Linked DNA regions of Homo sapiens. The gene in region 1 interacts genetically with each later gene. Each region holds a gene or a part of one and is shown on either strand. Other genes may lie near its edges. The genes, in order: GPI and PRKCZ.

Region 1 (3,806 bases):
AGGATGGTATGTAACTAGTCTCATTCTAGAAAGAAGTTAACTCATTATACACAGTGGATGGCTTAAGGGATTAGGGCTTCATTCTCTCCCAGACCCTGGTAGTAAAAGGCCTTTAGAGCTTTCAAAGGAATGAGGTTATGTCTGTGGATGCCATCACCAAGCAAAGGGCCTCTGGTCCAAATGCCTGGAGACAGCCCCAGGTGGGAAAACCACCAAATGGGCAATGCCCTCTCTGCTGCGCCTGCCACAGCGTTAGAGCCCTGCACGTAAGCCCGGCCATGCCCACAGCATTCACAGTGCCTGCATCACACCCTGCACTGCACCCCTGCACCCTGGGCTTCACAGTCAGAGCCCTCCTCACACCACTGCTGAGCTCAGGCAAGTGCACAAGGAAAGCTGTGGCTCACTGCTCGGCTCCAGCAGAGGTGGTCCCATGGACCACCTGTTGCTACAGAGGGGTCGGCAGCCCTGTCACTCAAGGCAGGGTTTGCTCTGCAAGCTGCCCCAGCCTGGCGCCTCCTCTACGCCACCCCCCCAGCTCCTCCTGCAGCTCCTGTTGCTCCTTTCCAGGCCTACCCGGTCATACCTCATGCCTCACCCTGCCCTTGGCCTTTACAGATGGTGGCTGCAGTTCAGAGAAAGGTCATCACTGAGAATAACTCACAACCTCAACTCTGTGAGCGTGGCAAGGGGGACTCGGGTTACCCCACAGTGGGTGTTGCAGGCAGGCACCCAAGGGAGTGTCATGTGGCCCTGCAAGCTCAGCCCGCCCTCAGGTGGAAGTGGAGCCCTCATCCTGCCTGGGTTGCTCTTGCCCTCCAAGCCTCTCTGAGGGCCTCTCTACCTTTCCCCAAGCTAGGTATGCAGCAGGTACTCAATAAACACTGACCTGACCTCATGGGCCTCTCAACAGCCATGACTTGGCAAAGGACACTTAATTCACCCAGTGCAGAAGTGCTTGTACTTACATCCCAGAACTCGAACATGTTTTGAGGGTCAATTCCAAACTCCTTCACTTTGGTCTACAAAAAAAAAAACAAAGGGAGAGAAATGCAAAGAAGCATTTGCTAGCGGGATGGGAACAGGAGCTCCGGGAGGCAGGGAGCTGTGCTCCGTGAGCTGAGCCTCACCTTCCCCAGAGCCAGGGATGGGGCAGGGCTGGAGCAGCCTGTGAGTCGAGGGCAGGGCCCAGGATCTGCCCACCCCAAGCTGGACACCAGATCAGTCCATGACCAGCACGCCAGTGACGTTGTGCCTGCAAAGCCCCCTGCTGAGGGCAGCTGTAACCCCGTGTGAGGACCTGGCCCACACACTGCTCTGCAACAGCTCTCACCCAGGCCTGCCTGGGACACCAGAGCATGATACCCCTGGACATCTGGGAACCGAACCTAGGACTGGGACCCAAGTGTGGGCAGGGGCCACCTACCAGGCCAGGCAAACAAACACAGGCTGAACAGCCACCCAGCCCTTCCCATGTGTGGGAGGGTGACTGCACCAGGAAGCTCTGAGGAGCCATCAGGTATTCTGGTCCCCAGGGCAGACAGGGCCAGCAATTCCTTACCTATTCCACATAGGAGGAGAAGCCCTACTGACCAGTCAGTTGCAGGCAGGCAACAGTGCTATGGTTAGCCAGCCTTATGGCGTCCTGCTGCAGCTGGGTAGGCACTGGAGGCAGAGATGTGGGGATGATGGTGGAGGGGGTGGGAGGGAGATGTGGGTGTAGTCCCCAGCTCTGACACAGCACAGTGCCCACTGGCTGACTGCTGCTGTCACTCCTGGAGCATCCCTCACTCTGTCATGCCCTGCTGAGCCTGCACAACCTCGAGGCCAGGCAGACTGTGAGAACTTGGAGACAGGAGACCCAGGTTCTAATCCTGGCATCACCTACTCATACAGTCACTAAGTGGGCCGGGTACAGTGGCTCATGCCTATAATCCCAACACTTTGGTAGGCCGAGGTGGGCAGATCACTTGAGGTCAAGAATTCGAGACCAGCCTGGCCACCATGGAGAAAACCTGTCTCTACCAAAAATACAAAAATTACCTGGACGTGGTAGTGGGCGCCTGTAATCCCAGAATCAGCAGGCTGAGGCATAAAAATTACTTGAACCCAGAAGGCAGAGGTTGCAGTGAGCCAAGATCGTACCACTGCACTCTAGCCTGAGTGACAGAGTGACCTTGTCTCAAAAAATAAGCTGGACATGGTGGCACACACCTGTAATCCCAGCACTTTGGGAGGCTGAGGTGGGCAGATCACTTAAGGTCAGGAGTCAGAGACCAGCCTGGCCAACGTGGTGAAACCCCGTCTCTACTAAAAATACGAAAATAGCTGGGCATGGTGGCGTGCACCTGTAATCCCAGCTACTCGGGAGGCTAAGGCAGGAGAATCGCTTGAACCTGGAAGGCAGAGGTTGCAGTGAGCCAAGATCACGCCACTGCACTCCAGCCTGGGCAACAGAGTGAGACTGTCTTAAAAAAAAAAAAAAAAAAAAAAAAAACAAAACCACACACACTAAGTAGGGGGCAAAATGTCACCTCCCTTCATTGGGGCTTTATGTCCTTAAGTGAAAAATGGAATGCATCCTCTACCCCTACCTAGCATGTCACATTTGGGGAGATGCTGGGCACAAAGGCCTAGGAAGGTCATGTGTATGAAGGGTTCTGTGTATCAGTCAGGCCTGGGAGACGGAAGAAGGGGTTATCGTGATCCCACTGACTCCAAGCCTCCCTCCTCAAAGCTGCAGAGGTTGAATGGGTAAATGCGGAAAAGGCAAGGAAGGCTTGCAGCCCACAGGCAACCAAACCTTCCATACCATCAGCCAAGCCAAGATCCACCAGACCTACGAACCGCGTCTCTGAGAGGCCATGACCTGGACATGCTGGGCACTCCCAGGAAGGCAGTACAGGGGACCACGGGGGCACTTACTGTGTTAGTAGACAGGGCAACAAAGTGCTTCGCCACTGCAGAAGGCTACAAGAGACAGAGCCAAGTTACCACAGCCAGCCCAGGGAGACAAAGGGTAGTCACTTCCCATCACTAGAGGAACCAAGGCCCTGCATGGGACTGAGATTCCCAGTCCTTGGTTCTGAGACTGTTGGAGAAGGCCCACATCGAGGTCAAGGTCAAGAAAGCAGACGGGTCACAGGCCGCCTGCTCATCCCATCTTACAAGCATACGGGGCTCAGGGACGTCCCTCCCCTATAAAATAGGTGTGGCCAAGAGTTCCTGCAGCGCCAAGGGCCTGCAGAGAAAGGGCCATGCAAGGGCTGTCAGCCAGCGAGAGCAGGTTCTGTCACATCTGCAAGGCTGGGTCTGACAAAGCCAAGATGAACAATCATCTCATCTAGCAAAGGCAGGCACCGGCAAGGCCGCCTTCACTTCCAACTTCAGGAGAAACACGGCCAGACTTGGTCACTCAGGGGCCCACCCTGCTCTTCCCAGCCCAGAGGCTAACCACGAGGAAGGCCCTATAGCCCACTCACATCCTTGGCCGCCTGGAGAAACCACTCCTTCGCCGTCTCTGCATTCGTGATGGTCTCCTGGGTAGTAAAGGTCTGCAACCAAAGAGAACAGCAGTGGGCGCCCGAGCTTAGGGGTGGGTGCAGGCCTTGAGCCAGGGTTCAGCAGTAGAGGCCAAGGCAATGCCCAGCTGTCCCATGGAGCAGTATTTGCAGGTCAGTGACAGTGACGCCACATAACCTCCTGAGATTCCAGCTCTTTAAAACCAGAGGAGGGGGGACGGTAAACACACCCCCCAACCCTAAGCCTGCAGGTCAAAGGCCGCAGCTTCTCCCCTGAGGGGCTGC
Region 2 (3,806 bases), on another chromosome or scaffold:
AGGAAACGGGCAGAGTCACCACACGCTTCCCTCCTTCACTCCCCGCTCCACGAGGGGCAGCCAGGAGCAGCCACCAGTCGGAAGCAAATAAACAATTCAGGTGCCAGAGGAGCCGCTGACCTAAAAAAACCCGCCACAGGGTATTTCTGGGAGATTGTATGAGAATTTAATTTTGAAAATTGAGTCTCATGAAATGTAGGAAAAGATCTTATTAGGAAGAGAAACCATGTGGCCCAGTCCCTGAGACGGGAAGGGCCTGCGTGGTCCTGATGACATCTGCGGATCTTTTAAAATCATACGATCATGTCTGCGAAACCGGGATGCCACTTCCCACCTGGCTTCTCCCTGACCCCAGCTTGTTCCCTTGGAGGGCCGGTGGACTCCTCAGCCTTGCAGCAATGAAATCAGGCCTTGAGGCCACCCCACCCGTGACCTGCGGTGCTGTCCCCATGCAAGAAACTGCCTCGCTCCAGCCCCCAGCAGATCCTGTCCCAGCCCCCAGCCCTGGTCCAAGCCACCTCCACTCCCACCTGGTGACGGGCCACCTCCTTCATTCCGGGGCCCACCCACACTTCCCAAGTCCACACACAGTGGCCAAGAGTGAAGGCCGGCGAGGCCCCCGCATGACTCCCTCACCTGCACCCTTCACGAGCGGCCCCGCAGCCCGTCCCCACCAGCCCCTCTCTGCTGCCAGGGTGCTCCTGCTGCTCTTTGCTCTTTGCAAGACTGAACCTGCGGGAGGGTTCGGGCCCACGAAGGCCGCTTCTGTGGGGCTTCTGTCTAAGGAGGCCGCCGTCTGCCGAGGTGACTGCAGCCTCCGGCGCCTCTCTCCCTGCAGGTTGTTCCTGGTCATTGAGTACGTCAACGGCGGGGACCTGATGTTCCACATGCAGAGGCAGAGGAAGCTCCCTGAGGAGCACGCCAGGTGGGTGCGCGTGGACGGGGCCGGGTGGGTGCGCCCGGAGTTGGGGATGGGTGGGTGCGTGCGGTGTTGGGGGGCTGGGTGGGTGCGCACAGAGGGATGACGGGTGGGTGCGCGCGGAGTTGGGGGGCCGGGTGGGTGTGCGCAGAGGGGAGGTGGCTGGGTGGGGTGTGCACGGAGGGGGTATGACGGGGGCGGGGGGGGCGGGGTGCACGTGGAGGGGGCCGGGGACCTTCTCCAGGGGTCAGCAGGGAGCTCAAGGGAGGGAAGTCCAGGTAGGATGGCAGAGGGCATCATGTCCCCCACAGTGTGACGTCCCCTGCATTGTGACACATTCCATATTTGCTCCAGAGTCACAACATTTGGGAGGTCTCCTGAGTTATGGTGCCTCAGACCAGTCCCCCAGGCCCCACCCCTGAAGCAGCACCATGCCTCATCCGAGAGAAGTGAGAGTCTCCTGGGATTGTGCTGTCTTCATGGTGGCTCTGCCCTGGTTCTGCTCTTCACCCTGTTAGTGGCACAGCATGGCCAGCATTTCCTCAGCGTTAGGAGCAGAACGAGAGTGGTCTGTTTCTAGAGTGACCTGAGAGACTCCTTCCTGCCCTTCCCTTTCATCTCTGATATCTTCGGGCCTCCCCTGGCAGCCGAGGGGCCTCCAGCATGGTTCAGGAGCCTCCCCCGGCAGCCGCGGGACCTCCAGGACCGTTTGGGGGCTTATTTCAGCTCCCTGGACCTTTCCTGTCTTTTGTAGTTTCTCCTTTTCCTCATTTCCTTACTTAAGAACGTTGCATGCAGTTTTGTGAGTCACCTTAGATTGTTTCTGGCAATAGGACAGTAGGCAATAAATCTAGAACAGTACACTTCCCACAACGCTGTTTTTAAAAACTGTGGCAACACACAACATAAAAGGTAGCATTTTGGGGCATGGAATTCAGTGGCGTTGAATGCACCCCATGCTTTGCAGCCACTGCTGGCCCCCGTCTCATCTCCAGAGCACGCCCCTCTTCCCTGCTGAAGCTTGGCCCATCAGACACTCCCTCCCTGTCCCCCGCCCCAGCCTCACATCCTCACCCCAGACGGGCACGTCCCACTTTCTGTCCCTCTGATTCGAGGACTCTAGGGACCTCATCGGAGTGGAATCACAGTGTTGGTCCTTCGGTGGCTCATTTTCCTGAGCATAGCGTCCTCAAGATTCATCCGTGCTGTGGCCTGTCTCAGAATTGCCTTCCTTTTTCAGGCTGGATAATGCCCCGTTGGATGGAGGGGCCACACTTTGCTTATCCGTCCATCCCTCGGGGGGCACTTGAGTGGCATCCACATGTTGGCCATGGTGAACAGTGCTGCTGTGAACATGGGTGTGAAGTAATCTCTTGAACACCCTGCTTCCGGTTCTTTGGGGTATACACCCAGAAACTGAATTGCTAACCACATAAGAATTCCATATTTAGGCCGGGCGTGGTGGCTCACGCCTGTAATCCCAGCACTTTGAGAGGCCAAGGCGGGCGGATCACGAGGTCAGGAGATCGAGACCATCCTGGCTAACACGGTGAAATAACACAGTGAAACCCTGTCTCTACTAAAAATACAAAAAATTATCCAGGTGTGGTGGCGGGCGCCTGTAGTCCTAGCTACTCGGGAGGCTGAGGCAGGAGAATGGCGTGAACCTGTGGGCAGAGCTTACAGTGAGCCAAGATCGCGCCATTGCACTCCAGCCTGGGTGACAGAGTGAAACTCTGTCTCAAAAAAAAAAAAAAAAAGGTCATATTTAATTTTTTTTTTTTTTTGATGGAGTCTCGCTCTGTCACCCAGGCTGGAATGCAGTGGTGGGATCTCAGCTCACTGCAGCCTCTGCCTCCCAGGTTCAAGTGATTCTCCTGCCTCAGCCCCCAGAGTAGCTGGGACTACAGGTGTGCGCCACCATACCCGGCTAATTTTTTTGTATTTTTAGTAGAGACGGAGTTTCGCCATGTTGCCCAGGCTGGTCTTGAATTCCTGACCTCAGGTGATCTGCCTGCCTCGACCTCCCGAAGTGCTGGGATTACAGGTGTGAGCCACCAAGCCTGGCACCGTGTTTAATTTTCGAGGACCTGCCGGACTGTCTTCCGCAGCAGCGGCGCTGTTCTGCACTCCTACCACAACGTGCCATGGCTCCGGTCTTTCCCGCATGGAAGCTGTCGTGTTATTTGCCCGCTCCTCCCCTTGTGGAGGCTGCCACATCGTTCTCTGTGTCTTTGACAGCAGGCCATCCTAAGGCGCATGGGGTGGTGTCCTGGAGCTTTCATTGGCATTTCCCTCCCTGGCCCTGTGCACTGCACTTTCAAATCCTGGGCCTGGTCATTGAGAGGATGCCGGGCCCGTGGTGGGGCAAACGGGAGTGTGTGGCCCCCAGGCTGGAGCTGTTGGCGCAGCCTCTGGCACAGGCACTGCCCCCATGACGGCATCCCCACCCCCAGGTTCTACGCGGCCGAGATCTGCATCGCCCTCAACTTCCTGCACGAGAGGGGGATCATCTACAGGGACCTGAAGCTGGACAACGTCCTCCTGGATGCGGACGGGCACATCAAGCTCACAGACTACGGCATGTGCAAGGTGCGTGCCTTGGACCGCCTCCCCTGACCATCCCGCATGTGCGTCTCGGGGCGCCTGTCCCGCGGGGTAGTGTCTACAAGAACCCTCTCCCAGTAACTTTGCCCCCACAGGAAGGCCTGGGCCCTGGTGACACAACGAGCACTTTCTGCGGAACCCCGAATTACATCGCCCCCGAAATCCTGCGGGGAGAGGAGTACGGTGAGTGCCGCTGCCCTGGCCCCTCTCGGAGCACACAGGGCCAGAGATGGCTTCGGGCCTGGCCCAGCAGCCAGGGAGAGGTGTCCTTGACCATCTT

Evidence for each region.
Region 2: changes in GPI (region 1) and PRKCZ together harm fitness more than expected from each alone (negative genetic interaction), as found in Homo sapiens cells (one large-scale study listed by BioGRID).

The regions. Positions count from the first base shown.
Region 1 is NC_000019.10:34,378,682-34,382,487, reverse strand, and holds part of GPI (glucose-6-phosphate isomerase), read right to left. Parts: intron 3,555-3,806; coding exon 3,483-3,554; intron 2,971-3,482; coding exon 2,926-2,970; intron 1,023-2,925; coding exon 969-1,022; intron 1-968. UniProt on the Homo sapiens protein: In the cytoplasm, catalyzes the conversion of glucose-6-phosphate to fructose-6-phosphate, the second step in glycolysis, and the reverse reaction during gluconeogenesis.
Region 2 is NC_000001.11:2,168,680-2,172,485, forward strand, and holds part of PRKCZ (protein kinase C zeta type), read left to right. Parts: exon of another isoform or gene 1-771; intron 772-814; coding exon of another isoform or gene 815-838; coding exon 839-925; intron 926-3,375; coding exon 3,376-3,511; intron 3,512-3,621; coding exon 3,622-3,709; intron 3,710-3,806. UniProt on the Homo sapiens protein: Calcium- and diacylglycerol-independent serine/threonine-protein kinase that functions in phosphatidylinositol 3-kinase (PI3K) pathway and mitogen-activated protein (MAP) kinase cascade, and is involved in NF-kappa-B activation, mitogenic signaling, cell proliferation, cell polarity, inflammatory response and maintenance of long-term potentiation (LTP).